2 separate regions of the Homo sapiens genome follow, and region 2 is linked to region 1. A link means that fine-mapping ties the variant in region 1 to the expression of a gene that starts in the linked region. Tissue or cell type: whole blood. Region 1 holds a variant in brackets; the other region holds the start of a gene. All regions are shown on one strand. Distances are between the middles of the regions.

Region 1 (8,261 bases):
ATATTTAATTCTTGAAATGTTTTTCTCACATACTGGCAGAAAAGATAGCATAACTTTCCATTATATAATCTTCTCAATGTAAGCATTTATTTGACAGTTATAAAGGGATAGGATTTGGTATACAGAGGAATCAATAACAATGTTGTAAAGCCTAGAACAGTGCACACAAACATGCTGTAGGAGACATTAACATTAGACTGAAAGAAATAATTATATTTTCAATAAACATGTTCCTCCTAGTAGGGTAATCAATTTTTTACACATCTTACCAGCTATTTCACAGAGCTCAGGTAATGAAATGGCAGCAGCTGTTATACCAAAACCATATATTACATGCATACGAGATGCTTTTTTCATAGGTATCTACTTATTTGTGTAAAGCCACATTTAACACATATTAAATAAAAACAAGGTAATCATGGGGTGATTAATTCAGAATTTTTAGTACCATCCTATTTTAGAAATAAATTCTTAACCAATTATTTTTGTGTCAGAAGACTTAATAATTCAAATTACACCCTGCCCTTGTTCCCAGATTTAAGAGATTTGTCACGATCAATGTTTCTGAAATATTAAATTAAGAGGTGTCATGGTAATTACTATGGAATAAATAGCAATTAAGTTTTTTAAGCAATTCAGCTCAAACTATTTGCAGTGAATATTTATACTACTAATATTTTTCTGCACAATGCAAGTTGCCTACAAATGTAAGATGTAAGTTTGTAGAATTATTTTAAAATATATTTGGAAACTGATTTAATATAGAATTCTGCGCTTGGTTGGCAAGCACCTATGCATAATGTATCCAAAAATAGGTAGACCTGAAGATAAATAATACAAATTATGTTACCCATAGAAAGATAATGATTTCTGTTCTATTTTCACAATAGTGAATCTAACATATGCTTTGAGAGAGATAAATAATTTGCAGGGTAAATAAAAGATAATTATTTTAAAATATATATCAGACAACAACTATAATCCATCATGTAAATATGTACTAGAGATTTGAATTAGGTAAGTACTTACTGCTATATAACAAACTCTTGCTTTTTCTACCAACATCCAGTTTTTCTCCAGATCAAGATGTTTTTCCTTTTTATAACAATTGGCAGCAGCAAGATTAGCTATGAGGGACCTAAAACAACCAAAGAATAAGCAAGTAATATTATAGTCAAACTTAGCATATGTTTCAATAGATAATTACCAATATTTTTTGCAAAGTTTAAAATTTACATTTTAATTAATTCTTCAAAACTAATGTTATTGATTTTTAAATAAATATAAATAATAATTTTGTTTTGAGAACTTTCTGAGGCATCTATGATAATTTTTGTTCTAAACAACACCTGGTATTTTGAGAAAGAAATTGGCATTTAAGTTGCCTTTTGATAGTAAAATAGGACCTACTTTTTACACCTTAATAGTTCAAAATGCAGTTAAGAAATAAGGCTAACTCATTATATAAAAAGAAATCTATGCAACTAAAAACATTTTTTAAGTAGAAAAATATCTTTATAAAAATAAATATCAACATACTATAATTGTCTATTTAATCGAAGCCTTTAAAAGCCAAATATGGAATTAATTTCGTAAAAGACACTTATAAATGTAGACCATATTCGCTAAGAGGAATTAATTTGTAAACCATTACATTCTAAGGGCTGAAATCAATTAGAATTGTTTTCTATAGTTGAAAAGTCCCCTGACTGGTCCAATTTTAGAAATGGAATATCTAAGCAGGATACTGCATTTAAAATCTTGCTGCAGGTTGGGTGCAGTAGCTCAAAGCTGAAATCCCAGCTCTTTCAGAGGCCAAGGTGGGAGGATTGCTTGATGCCAGGAGTTTGAGGTCAGCCTGGGCAACACAGCCAGATCCCATCTCTACAAAATAATTTTAAAAATTAGCTGGGGGTAGTGGTGCACACTTATAGTCCTAGGGACTCAGGAAGCTGAGGTGGGAGGATTGCTTGAGCCCAGGAGTTTGAGGCTGCAATGAGCTATGATCATGCCACTGCACTCCAGCCTAGGCAACAAGGCAAAACCACATCTCTAAAAAATAAATAAATAAATAAATAAAATCCTGCTACAAGTGTCACTTGGCTTGTTTAATTAAAAATAAATACAATAATTATTTACATTATAAATAAAAATACTTTCCTTCCTCATACTGCTCCAGAATTTAAAAAATTACTTGCCAATTTTTCTCTTTTTCTAATTAAATTGTAACAGTTATAGCTTACAAAAAAAATCTTATCATTTCAGACTTTGGTAATATGTTCGATTACACTGTTAAAAAAAAAAACCTCAATTCTCTTCCAAAACGTATTTCCACTCATCCATCTGCCAATTTACTACTAAAGGATACATCTGTTTATGTTCAAGTAAATGAAGGAAAGAAAGAGTAATATGCATCAACATATTCATATACAAAATAACTATATTACAAACTTAAGAAAATTTAGACCTAATTTATAAAAATATTTTAGTAATTATGACTTTAGGAAAATTTTGACAAAATGGCTACCAAATAAAAGCAAACATTTCTGGTACCAGATACTAAACTCTATTCTGATAATAAAACTACTTTTTGATGGGAAACTACAGTTTCTCCAAAAGAAAAATAAAAGTATTCTTTTTTTTTTTTTTCCAGATGAAGTTTCGTTCTTGTTGCCCAGGCTAGAGAAGAGCAATGGCTCCGTCTTGGCTCACTGCAACCTCCGCCTCCGGGTTCAAGCAATTTCCTTGCCTCAGTCTCCCAAGTAGCTGGGATTACAAGTGCCCGCCATGATGCTCGGCTAATTTTTTTGTATTTTTAGTAGAGGTGGAGTTTCACCATGTTGGCCAGGCTGGTCTCAAACTCCTGGCCTCAAATGATCCACCCGCCTCGGCCTCCCAAAGTGCTGGGATTACAGGCATGAGCTGCCATGCCCGACCAGAAAAATATGAGTATTCTTATTATCCCAACGTATTTGATTCTGACTTTGAAGAGGAAGAACCTGGATCAAGAAAGATACTGCATTACCCAAACACTTCAATTTCTGAAATTTTTTGTTTTGTTTTTTGTTTTTTAGACAGGGGCTCACTCTTTTGCCCAGACTGAAGTGCAGTGGGCAGCACGACCCCAGTCCACTGCAGCCTCAACCTCCTGGGCTCAAGCAATCCTTCCACCTCAGCCTCCCAAGCAGCGGGGACCACAGGTACATGCCACCATCCCCAGCTAATTTTTGTATTTTTTGTAGAGATGGAGTTTCGCCATGTTGGCCAGGCTGGCCTTAAACTCCTGAGCTCGAGTGATCAGCCTACTTCGGTCTCCTAAAGTGTTAGGATTACAAGGTGTGACCACCACACCCGGCCAATTTCTGAGTTTTTGATAGTGGCAGCAAAGGTTACTGGACCTATCCAAAACAATTGATCCAACTGTATTAGCTTCCAGAATTTAGATAATGATTTAGATACTGAAGATTTCTCCCCAATTTTTGAGTCCCATATCATCTCAACAATATCACTATAACCATAAAATTAGTATAAAAGTTAAGTTTTTGACATCCAGAAGATCTAATATTATCATAACTGTTCTCTCTCTCTCTTTGGTTTTGAGACAGAATCTTGCTCTGTTGCCCAGGCTGGAGCGCAATAGCACAATCTCGGCTCACTGCAACCTCCACCTCCTAGGTTCAAGCAATTCTCCTACTTTCGTCTCCCGAGTAGCTGGGATTACAGGTGCACACCTGGCTAATTTTTACATTTTTAGTAGAGACGGAGTTTCACCATGTTGGCCAGGCTGGTCTCGAACTCCTGACCTCAGGTGATCCACCTGACTCGGCCTCCCAAAGTGCTGGGATTACAGGCGTGAGCCACTGCACCCAACCATAACTGTTCTTTAGGACAGCAATTTAGCATACTAAAACAATTTAGTAATTTTACTGTAGCCTAAGTGATATCAGAAGAAAATCTGACCTACTTCTCACTAATGGGAAAACTTTGCACCTACAGATTAAGGCTGGTCTTGGGAAAACTAAGGGCAAAGGTCTAAACAAACATATTTCAACATTTTTAGTTGTTTTTTTTTAAAATCCCTGAATCCCATATTTCAATGTTTACTGTAATCTTAAAACCATAAAGTTCTCCTGTATATAAAAAACAAAATTAAAGGAAAGATCTGAAAATGCCTTTCATACCCTAATAATTTTTGAATATTGTATTTTGGTTATTTAGTAAATACTGTGCTTATTGATCCCCAGTCTCTAGAATAGTCCATTCCTTAATATACCTCTGCTGAAGGTCAAGTAGTGAGCAATAAAGTGGGTAAATAGAAGAAATGGAGCAAGGTCGTGGTGGAGAGGGGGAAGAAAATAAAGGAGGATGAAAAGGGAAAAAAAGAAAGGAAGAGAAGATGGGAAAAGAAAGGAGATAGGGAATGGAGGAGGACAGACTACATATTTCCAACTATAAGTAATGCAAAATTTCTAGTGAATCACTATTTAAAAAGAGGTCATCTTT[G/T]ATTATCCCAACAATATAATAGCTAGGGCAGTTATTTTGTTTTTCCCTTGCAAAGGGGAAAAAAGCCTGTGCTGATATGGTAATAACGTTAGCAGTGCATGAATACACTGAAGGAGTATCTCCATGTGGGTACAAAAGAACAACCAACCAATATATGGAGGGGCCTGAGAGAGATATTTCAAGTTCATATTAAGAATACTTTTCTAATAAGTAAGGGTGTATAGAAATATACTTGGTTGTTTTGTTAGTGGTATACTACCCACGACTGAGTTTATTCAATATGAATGAATTACTATTTGCCAGAAATGGTTTAGATGACCATTTAGATGACTAAGTCTTACGAGCCTGAATGTAATGTTGTATTTTATATACATAAAATACACACACACACTCTCTCTCTGTCTCTCTGTCTCTCTCTCTCGTATTCCAACCTCAGGATATGGTGAAAAGAACATTGTTTCTAATTCAAGTTTTGCAACAAATTAGCTACAAGGTGTTGAGCAAGCTACAAGGCATTGAGCAAGCTATCAGCCTTTTCTGATTCTAATTATAAAAAGTAGAGACTGGACTAAATAACCTCAAACTTTTATTCCATTATGCCTCATGAATTCAACTGCATGTTTAACAAAAGTAAATTTAAAAACAATACAGGAAAACTGATATAAGGAATAAGCATTTATCAAACATTAAAAGGAATTATAAAGTCAAAATTCCAAATTCACATTGGAATTCATATTTTACCAGTGTTAAAATAGCCAATTAGTATAGTGGTTCCCTTGGAATTACACTGACCTGTTGTCACCAGTGATGCATGCAGCACAAGTTCCTGTTGGCTGCTCATTCTGCTCGTAGTAATGAGCATCCACATGGGCTTCAGCAGCTTTTCTCTTCAGGATCTCCCCAAATTTATCTATCCCAATGCATCCAAAAAATGTTGCTGCTTTGTGTGGCTGTTGAATCATCCACTGTAAAACAGGAACATAAATAATTTAATGGGGCAAAAAAATGGTACACATAGTTTAATATTCTGCCACAGATAGTGATGTGACAAGAATGCTTTGTGAGAAACTGTAGCTGTTATGAATGGGATTTCAATTCTGTGCTATCACTTACGATTAAAAAAACTTAATATAACAACCATGTAATATCTTATACTGCTTTGGGGAGAGAAATAAAGTACATAAAGTTGTTAAGGACTCAGCAGCTAAAATCATACAGACCTTAAGACAAATGCTGGCCTGATATAGGAAAATAATAGTGGGTCCCAATATAAGAAGTCTAGCATTGTCATAAAAAGAGCAGAATCCATCTTGATTGAAGACTCTCTGGGTTCAAATCTTGCTTCTGCCACTTACTAGCTGCATGAGTTAGAGCATGTTAGAGCATATCTCTTAACATTTCTCATTTCACTCATGTTTAAAGTGGAGATATAATTACAAATACATCTCATAAGGTCGTTGAGGACTAATTGAAATGATGTAAATTAATGTACTTGCATTGCTGAGCATGGTACCCAGCACATAGTCAACAACATATATTAGCTGTGGCTGTTACTATGATTGTCATACTTATTGTAGTAATTCATATATAAATTAAGCTAAAACATGCTCATATCTAAAAAAATTCTTTTAAAAATTCAGAAATAGTGTTACAGTTCTAGTTACAAATATCTCATTTTTTCATTGAAGTAATTATTATAAGCTTTAATGGATTTCTTGTAAGATGCATATGTTTCACAGATTTGAACTTTTTACCTTTTATAATTAGCTCAAATCCCTGAGGGTTCTAATATTCTATAGTGATTCTATAGGTAACACCTGTTTAGTTTCAAAGACTTACAGGTAGCAAAATAACCTACAAATAATCTACATACAAAGTCAAAAGATATCAAAATAGATTTTGATAAAATCTGTTCTCAAATATTTGGAATAGAAAAGAAATACATGCATATTTGAGAGGTAAAAGGATGAGGAGAGGAAAAAGTAACAAAGACAGAACTGTAAGAATGAGACATAGTAACAGCTTAATGACCAGCAATCCCACTTCTACAGACTCATCCACAATATAAAACAACACATATATAAGTATTGAGATGTTATTTGTAATGGCAAAATGTTGGAAATAAACTAGAAGTCCACCTGTAGAAGATCAGTCGATTAAATTATGATATATCCACACAATGGAATACCACACAGCCATTCAAAAATCCCAGCAAAACAACACAAAAAAAGGAAAAGCTCTGTGGAACACTCCTTCTATACAAAGTAATTTCCAGGATATTTTGTTAACTTCAAAAAAAAATCAAGTCTCAAAGGTAAAAAGCTTTGTTTAAAAAATAAAACTTAATAATATATATTATTTTCAAATATGGGGGACAGCTTCAGGACATTGGATTTAGCAATGATTTCATAAATATGGAACAAAAGCACAGGCAACAAAAGCAAAAATAGATAAATGTGATTATATCAAGCTTAACTTCTGCATGGCAAAGGAGGCAATCAACAGAGTGAAAAGGCAACTTATTTCCAAACCATATATCCAATGAAAGGTTAATATCCAGAATATATAACAAACTTCTAAATGAACAATAAAAATACAAATAACATGATCTTAAAATGGGCAAAGGACTTGAATAGACATTTCTCCAAAAATGATATATAAATGGCCAATAAGCACAAGAAAAGATGTTCAACATCAGTAATCATCAGGGAAATCAAAACCACAATGAGATATCACTTCACACTGATCAGGATGGTTACTACCGAAAACACAGAAAACAAAAAATGCTGGCAAAATGTGGAGAAGTGAATGAACCCTTGTGCAGTGTTGGTGGAAATGTAACATGGTACAGCCACTACTAAAATGGTATGGAAGTTCCTGAAAGAAATATTAAAAATTAAATTAACATATAATCAAGCAACCTCACTTCTGGGTATACAGTCAAAAGAATTCAAAGCAGGATCTCAAAGATATATTTGCATGTCCATGTTCACTGCAGCAATATTCATGATAGCCAAGAAGTACAAGCAACCCAGACATCTATCAACAATTAAAGGATAAAGAAACAAAAGAAGGAAATCCTGTCACATGCTACAACATAGATGAACATCAAGAACTTGCTAAGTTATATAAGGTCTGTCACAAAAAAGACACATATTGTATGATTCCATTCATAGGAAGTATCTGAAGTAGTCAAAATCATAGAAACATAAGTAGAATGTTGGTTGCCAAGGACGTCAGGGAGGGAAGTCAGAGAATTAAGAGTTTAATGGGTACAGAGTTTCAGTGTTGCAAGATGAAAAATTTCTAGAGGTTGACTATGTAACAACATGCGTATACTAATTGGTACATTTAAAAATGGTTAAGATGGTAGAGTTAATGTTATGGTTTTTATTACATAAAAGAGAATGTGTGTGTGTGTGTGTGTGTGTGTGTGTGTGTGTGTGTGTGTGTATATTCTTGCCTCGAACTCCTGAATTCAACAGATCCTCCCAGCTCAGTCTTCTGAGTAGTTGGGACTATAGGTGCAAGCCACCTCACTCAACCATATATATTCTTTTAGTATAGATACTATACTATATACATATATTAGAATGTATATATAATTTTGTGTTTGCTAATTTTATAAAAAGAAACACAGAAAGAATAAACTAGAAATGAAAAATGCTTTTCTATGAGAGTGAGTGGGAAAGGAGTAGAGGAATAGGAATAGAAGAGTTCTCTGAATATAGCATTCCATACAAATTTGACTTCTGAAA
Region 2 (8,000 bases), 480 kb after region 1:
CACTACTGGTTAGGCGGTCCCCATCTGTCCCCTCCAAGTGCCGAGGAAGTAGCTATGCCTATCCCTAGGTCAGTCATCCAGGGAGGTCTGCTGGTCGCTTATCACCTGGAAACCTCCCCTGCCCCATGCCCCAAGGGCTTTGTTCCAGGTGTTGAAAAAGGCTTGGATGGCCAGAGCCACTGCATACAGCTGTACAGGTCGTTTCTGCAAAAACTCCCAGCTGAGGTAGTTAGGCTGGAATCCATCCCAAGGCTCCATTCTCCAAGTTCTATATCCTAGCACAGACAGAGGCTGCATCCCACAAAGGAAGGTGTGTCTTTTTCTAATTCATATAAACAGGGCCTTCCCAGCCCAAGCCATATACCCACAGGGCTGTTTCCACTCGCAAGAGGCTACTTGTTGGGGAAATTCAGGGTCTCTCCAGAGGAGCACCAGGCCCCTCAGACTTCATGGAACTCTTCCCTGCCACTCCCTTTGTCATGTATATCGAGGCTTCAAGGTCCCTCGCCCCACCCCTGCCCCACCGGGCAGCTTCAACCTCAGCTCCAGTCTCTCCCTGGGTCCCACTCTCCCCAAGCCATTATGGCCACAGTAGTCGCGGGGTTCCCCCTCACCAATGTCGTTGTGGTGAGCAAGCGTGTCAGCGCTGTAGTCCTTGTGTAGGATGAGGTTTTCCACCTCAAACTTCATCTCCCCTTGCGTGTTGGAGTTAAGCCTTGAGCGACCCAGGTAGACGATGTAGTCCTCCTTCTTTGGGTAATCACTGTGGGAGAAGATACCCATCAAACAGCTTAGTCCCATGAAATCTGCCACTTCTTCCTTCCCTCCCTAGAGGCCTCAAAGCACGACTTGTCCCCAAGGCCATGGGCTGCATGGACAGGGGCAGATGAGGGAGAAATGAGGCGGAACACTTTGCTGGGAAGGAGAAAGGGATGTGCTTGGGGTGGGGCAGAAGAGTCGAAGAGGAGAAACCCAGGGCCGTACATGAAGCAGTGTGTGGCGCTGATCACCCAGCAAGGGCTGATGAGGCTGCCTCCACACACGTAGGTGACAGAGCCCCCCCGGTGCCTCCTGTAGATGGCCGCAAACCAGGGCTGGTTCTCGATGGTGGTGAATTCTCCCCCAATAATCTTAAAGCGGGGCCTCAGAGTCTTTTGGCCACACTGAAATTTTAATTCTTCTGGAGGAGAGGAGGGCTTTTTTCCTGGAGGACAAACAGAGGGATGTCTTAGGGAGGCAGGTAGGAGAAAGCATCCCTCTCGGGCACCCCCCACCTCCTCAGTCCTCCTGTGATGGAATAAGGGGACATGTAAGTTTGTCCCCTTCCACCCCACTGTCATCAGCAGGTCAGTGATGCTCACCATCTGCGCAGTCATGCACCATGCACTCTTGGACAAGCAGCTTTAGGCCCACCTGCACATAGCACCAGGGTCGCCTCCGGTTGTCTGGGTTCCTGGCAACACAGAAAGATAGGGGATGTCATTCCAACCCAGAGGGCCTTCCCTGCCTCCTCCCCTCAGGGAAGACTCAACCAGAGGCCGCACTTCTCTTGTGCTATGGCCAGCCCTCTGGGAGAAGGGGATGGTAACAAGGTTTCTGGGAAGCTGTAGGGAGGGCTTTTGGTCCTTGTTGCCCCCACCTCACCTGCAGTAATTATGTTTCCCCAGGCCCAGCTGAAGAGCATCAGATCTGTGGGCATGGTACGTTTGCTGAAGGACAGTGGCAGAGTTCCAGGGCAGGCAGGGCCGGCCCATGGTGTCAGTGCTGGCCTTTCCTCGGTAAAAGTGACCATTCCCCTCATAGCAGGTTTTTGACTTATCTACAAGGGGACAGGAGGATGAGAGAATATGAGAAAGAGAAGAACATTCCAACTAACTTTTATTTTTTTTTTTTGAGATGGAGTCTTGCTCTGTCGCCCAGTTGGAGTGCAGTGGTGTGATCTCAGCTCACTGAGATCTCTGCCTCCCAGGTTCAAGCAATTCTCCTGCCTCAGCCTCCCAAGTAGCTGGGACTACAGGCATCCACTACCATGCCAGGCTGATTTTTGCATTTTTAGTAGAGGCAGGGTTACACCATGTTGTCCAGGCTGGTCTTGAACTCCTGACCTCAAATGATCCACTCACCTTGACCTCTCAAAATGCTGGGATTACAAGCGTGAGCCACCATGCCCGGCTGCCAACGGACATTTTAAAGATGTCGTTTCAGACCTGCCAGAAGACTGGACAGGGTCTCCTTCCAACCCCACCTCACATTTGTGTGGCCACTGTTTCGTGAGCGTGTGTGTGTGTTTATGCTTGTCACATAGGGATGAAGATGTCACCCACCCTACCTCCAGCTCCTAACTCCTGCCTGCTCTTGCCTCCCACCCATCCCTCCCTGTCCCCAAATTTCTCTCCCAGTTGCAGTGGAGATCCCCATACCTATTTCACAGTGCTGCCCTCCGAATTTCTTTGGGCAGTTGCACCAGTGAATGTTGGAGAAGTACTTGTTGGACACACATGTTCCTCCATTTAGACAGTCACAGTTCGCTGGAGAGAACAAAGGTGGGGTAAGCGAGGGGGAGTGGAAGTGGTAAGGGGTGGCGCAGCCCTGCAGCAGAGGGCAGGGAGGGGATGTCCCCTGAAGCCTTCCCAACTTGTCTGTGCAGCCAACTGTTGTAGGGGTGGATACTCACATGGAACTTGATGAAGTTCATTGCTGCCCTGGAAGAGATTCGGGAGGAGGCTTCATCAAAGGTCCCATGCTCCAGGGACTCCAGGGTGAGGGTAAACTGGCCCCAATCCCAAAACCCACTCTTCCCTCTCCCTCTCGCCTCACCCTGTTCGTATCTAGTTCTCAAATGGAAGACCATGGGTTTCCAGCCAGGAGAAATGGATTGACCCAAGCAAGCTTCATCTACCAGATGCCCGCAGGCTGGGGCAGTCCCGGCGGCCTCTTCCTCCCTTGCCAGCCAGTGCCAACCCCCGTGGTTCTCAAGCCTCCGCTGCCACCCTGTCCCATTTCCTGGGGAGAGTCTGGCCCTGCTGTGGATGGAATCCGGAGGACCCCAGCTCCCTGAGCAGCCCCTCCTCTCCCCTGGTGCTGATCAGAGGTCCTTGGGCAGCATCAGTCAAAGCAAGAGCGCACTCACTTTGGAGTCGCTCACGACCAGGACGCAGAGAAGCAGGCGCGCCAGCAGGGCTCTCATGGTGGCGAGGTCGGGGCGCTAGACGGCGGCTCTGCAAAGGAAGGAGAAGTCAGGGCAAGAGGCGGAGGAACGGGAAGGCAGGCCAGGCGGGCGACTGCAGCGCAGGGGAGATGCCCGCGGTGACCAGGCTCCCCAGCTGTCTCTCTCCTCTCTGGGCTCCGGACTCCGGGCAGCCTGGATCGGCACCCGCGGGGGACGCCCGGGACGGGGCGCCTTGACTCCGTGCAGCCGCCGGGGAGCCCAGGGAGCCCGGGCAGCCCAGGGCGGGGGAGGCAGACGCTCGGGAGCTGGGGCCGCCGCGCATCCGGCCCGGGGATCTCAGGACCGCGGCACTCACCGGTGGCTGCGGCAGGAGGGCGCGAGCCGGCGCTGCGGGGACAGGTGGACCCTGGCCCGGGCTCCGGGGCTGCGGTCTCCGCACTGTGCTGCGACCCGCGGCGCCTGCTCTATATCAGGGCCCGCCCCGGCGCCGCCCCTCCCTCTCCCGCCCGGCTCCCTCCCCTGTCTTGCAGCGCTCAGCGACCCGGACCCCGCGTGCTTCCGCAACGCTCACAAAGATTTGGGGGAAGCGCGATCTCCAGCGGAGGGGACCCAACAGCGTCTGGACTGAGGAATCGAGAGGCTTGTAAATTCTCCGTGCTTCCTCCCATGCACCTGGCCGGGGGCCTGCCCCAGTGCAAGGAGTCCCCGAATTGCAGAGAGGAGAGAAGGCGCACAGGAGACTCTCTACCTCGCCCAGCTCTGAAGCCTCCTGGGGTCCTCTAATCAGTTCTTCTGCAACTTCTCCCCGCTGGGCCCCAACTTGCCTAAGACTGCCTCAGACCCCCTTGCCCGCAGCTGATGGAGCTGTGAAGTCTTCATCAACGCGACAAATGTACGAGACATACTCTCCCAGAAGCACAGACAGAAAAACCCCTGCCTGTAGGGGCTCCCTCTGTGCGTCTGTTCAGTGGCAGTCCCCAGATATCACCAACACAACCAGTGGATGGAACAAAGCCGGGCTTATTGCTTTCGGCAGTAAGGGGGTTTGTTTGATGGTGCTATCAGAGGGGGAAAGGCAAGGCCAGATTACTGAAAATTTGCAGCTTGGTTTAAAGTCCGTTTTTGACAGGGCTTGATAAGGATTGGGTTAGGTGTCGTGATATGATGTTACAGGATTGTGGGAACAAAGTCCTAGGGCATAAACTGTTGGTGCTTCCTATTGAAGTGTTAACGGGTCTTTTGGGAAGTTTCCATAATGAGCAATTCATTTATTTGTGCAGGCAAGAATAAAAGTAAAGACAATGGAAACATGTAGACAGTTCTAACTGTGGAGGTTCTGGAGGGTGTGGAAGTTCTGTTCTCACCTCTGAGTAGAGGAATTGGGAGACTGGAGGACAAAATAAGAGGAAGATTTATTTTTCACTGTTTGTCCTTTTACACTCTTAACATTTTAAAAAGCACATCTCTGTATAGCCCATTCCAAAAAGATAATTATGCATTTTTTAATGCATGTGTATTTAGTGTTTTACTTCATCATAGAGCCTTGTTTATTCTATTCAGATAGAAACAATTGTTTATCAAATAAAATTGTCCTCCAGAAAAACAGACCATGTGTAAATGACTGCATCCACCCTTCCTGCCTGAGGATAAGCAGACATTTGTGTATACACACACACACACACACGCATCTCTGGGCACACTTGGAGGAACATAGCAGGGATTCTGTGATTCTGTCACCCCCATCTCTTTCCCCTAGTGTCAGGAACCAGGGCTTGGGGTCATTTTGAACCCAGTAGGACTCGCTCTCTTAGTGGGAAGGAGGAGGCTGAGTCCCAGCAATCCACTAGCGGCTTTGGGCCCTTTCCCAGCCTAGGCCTGCAGCATTTTCCTGCCTTGCAAATCTGGACCTTGGGTCTGGGTCCACCTGAGAGTGACAGAAGGAAGGCAGGGAGAGTGCCAGGAAGGTAGGAAGGAGGAAGGCTCCTTTGCTCTGCCCCAGCCGAGGGCTCAGGGTGCCAGCTGCCTGCTGGGGAAAGTACAAGTTAGCCTTTCAGCTTTTGGGAGGCAGGTGACCCACTGTCTTCTGGAGAGACTTCTGTGCTTGCTGAGCTGCCAGCCTTCCAGGGGACAGACTGAGTCAGCGATGCTATAGGCTTCAGAGCCAACCTTGCTACTTCCTCTAGAAGACTGTGGTCAGTTTTGTTTGGATTTGAGAACCCATTAATTGTAAATAAACGTGACCAGAACATAAACAGAGATGCTGCAGCCTGAGGACTTACCCCGAAACTCCCAGGTTAGTTATCAGGAAATTCCCAGGGACCGTCATGATTCATGTTGCTCCCCTAGCAGCTCTCATGACTCCAGATTACTTGGCTGGAGGCTGTCATGCTGATTGCTGAGAGCAGATGACTTCATTTCCTCCTGGACAAAGAGGTTTGGAGACCGTTATGAAGCGTGACACCCTTTCTCCCCTTCCGCCCCCTCCTCCCCCGTGCCACCTCTTCACCTAGCACTTCAACTCTTCACAGAACTTCCTTATCCATGCGCTAATCTTTAGCACTCTCTGAAATCTTTGTGCACAGTTCTTTTTTTTTTTTAAAGACAAGGTTTTGCTGGGCTTCTGGGTTCAAGGGGTCCTCCCACCTCATCCTTCCAAAGTGCTGGGATTACAGGCATGAGCCACCACGCCCAGCCATATTTTTTTTTTTTTTTTTTTGAGACGGAGTCTCGGTCTGTCACCCAGGCTGGAGTGCAGTGGCACAATCTCGGCTCACTGCAAGCTCCGCCTCCCGGGTTCACGCCATTCTCCTGCCTCAGCCTACCGACTAGCTGGGACTACAGGCGCCTGCCACCACACCCGGCTAATTTTTTGTATTTTTAGTAGAGATGGGGTTTCACCGTGTTAGCCAGGATGGTCTCGATCTCCTGACCTTGTGATCCGCCCACCTCGGCCTCCCAAAGTGCTGGGATTACAGGCGTGAGCCACCGTGCCCGGCCCCAGCCATATTTTTTATATTGTATTTCTGTCTTGTGCTTCAAGGCACATTAATGTAAACCATTTCTCTTTAAACTCATAACTGCCTTATGATATAGACTGGTATTGTTGTTCCCATTTTGCAGATATGGAAAATGAAGTGGAGAGAAGATACACAGTTGATGAGCAGCAAAGCCAGCACTAAAACCCAGCGTCTTCTGATCCTTGTTCCTATGCGCTATACCTCACTGTCTCCATAAAAGACAGAACGCTGTGAAGGGAGGGGCCAGTGAGCTAAGATGATCCAGCTCAGGGGAGCCCTCCTCCTGACTTTGGAGACCTCCTTCCAGAAAGACTGCTCGGACTATGGACTCTGAGCTCTTAAGTTGCACCCGCTGTAATACAAATTAGTTGTTTGCCTGAATTCCAAGAACTGTCTCTGTGGTCTAGGCTGTCTGAAATTTCTGTTGAGGGTAAGAGAATAAGGAACTGAATGTGTATGATTTCATTCTTTTCCTGACTCCTAGGGTGAAGCCACCAACCCCTGCCTCTGTGTCTCAAGGGTACAGAGCTCCTGAGTCAGATGTGGCAACACAGACTGCTGGAGAAGCCCTTTCCAGGAGATTCTCATAAAAGGGAAGGCAGATGCCAGATGCGCAGGGAGGGGCAGGGTATCCAAACCTGGCCCTGAGACTAAGTCCAGGAAACTCAGCCCCTAAGGACTATTTTCTGACCCAAAAGGAAGTTCCCATGGAGTCATAGGATGCAATTCTGTGTTGTATATGAAGAATGCTCAGCATGGCACTATAGAAAGACCACAGTGCCTAGCCTTCAGTCTGCTACATCAAAGTTGAATGATCTTAGGCAAGTTGCTTAACTCTTTTTTTTTTTTTTTTTTTTTTTGACGTGGAGTCTCGCTCTTGTCACCCAGGCTGGAGTGCAATGGTACAATCTTGGCTCTCTGCACCCTCCACCTTCTGGGTTCAAGCAATTCTCCTGCCTCAGCCTCCCAAGTAGCTGGGATTACAGGTGTCTGCCACCATGCCGGTCTAATTTTATATTTTTAGTAGAGATGGGGTTTCACCATGTTGTCCAGGCTGGTCTTGAACCCCTGACCTCAGGTGATCCACCTGTCCAGCCTGTGCCTCACTCTGCAGATTGGCTGAGATCATGCTTGCATGTAAAAGTATTCATTCATTCCATATTTATCATGGACCTACTGTGTGCTGGGCGCAGTTCTGGATGCTAGAGATAGGAAGAGGAACTGTGTAAACTGTAATTCCTACATCGAGTGCCTGCCTCCCCTTTTTGACTGTGGCTGGATTGACTCAGAAGACCAAGTCAGGCTGGAGTCCATTCCAGGATTCCAGGCCAATGGGGATGCTGTATCCTTGGCCAGCAGTTCCCAGCAATCAGGCAGCTGGACCCACAGCTGCATGTGCTGTTCACTCCCACATTGCCTATGCTTACTCCCTCTCCCTCTTGTCTGTGTCCCTGTGTGGCCTGAAGCGCCTCTTTCCCTCCTACACATGGGGCAGACGGACTCTTCAACAGTTCTGGGAAGGAGGTACGGAATGCTGGTCACATAGCTTCCTTGAGTCTAAGGACCCCTTCTTCCTGAGTGTCTAGTGTGAAGGGTGAAGCCAGCTGGCAACGGCAGGCACTGAAAGCCGCTTCTGGGCATGTAACATGATAGGGGGATTGCTGGAGCTGCAGGCCCCCAGCAGGCTGTGGAAGGGGTGGAGGGAGGCAGCATTCTTGCTTCCTTACTCATGGAAAGCAAAGAGCCCAGGGGCTGAACCCTGAGGTTACACTGTCGTCAGTAGCACCATGAAAGGGGAACTAAAGCTGGTCCCT

What was found. PIP is the estimated chance that this variant, and not a neighbour inherited with it, causes the effect.
Region 2: it holds the start of PLAU, and the variant in region 1 is fine-mapped to the expression of PLAU in whole blood (INTERVAL, PIP above 0.99).

Annotation. Positions count from the first base shown.
Region 1 is chr10:74,391,348-74,399,608 of GRCh38, reverse strand. ADK (adenosine kinase) reads right to left here. Exons shown (of 11, transcript NM_006721.4): 5 at 5,296-5,468; 6 at 1,030-1,138. Among named protein-coding and RNA genes, the nearest start is that of ADK-AS1, 130 kb to the left of the region's middle. The variant G/T (reference allele first, on the strand shown) is at 4,504.
Region 2 is chr10:73,906,743-73,914,742 of GRCh38, reverse strand. PLAU (plasminogen activator, urokinase) reads right to left here and starts at 3,611. Exons shown (of 11, transcript NM_002658.6): 1 at 3,525-3,611; 2 at 3,131-3,218; 3 at 2,675-2,702; 4 at 2,421-2,528; 5 at 1,645-1,819; 6 at 1,362-1,453; 7 at 985-1,204; 8 at 615-763. The coding sequence starts at 3,187. C10orf55 (chromosome 10 putative open reading frame 55) reads left to right here. Exons shown (of 5, transcript NR_160938.1): 3 at 1,668-1,700; 4 at 2,459-2,543; 5 at 2,648-4,774. RefSeq lists enhancers at 349-902, 513-1,712, 5,331-5,380, 4,630-5,580, 4,936-6,135 and a silencer at 3,065-3,664.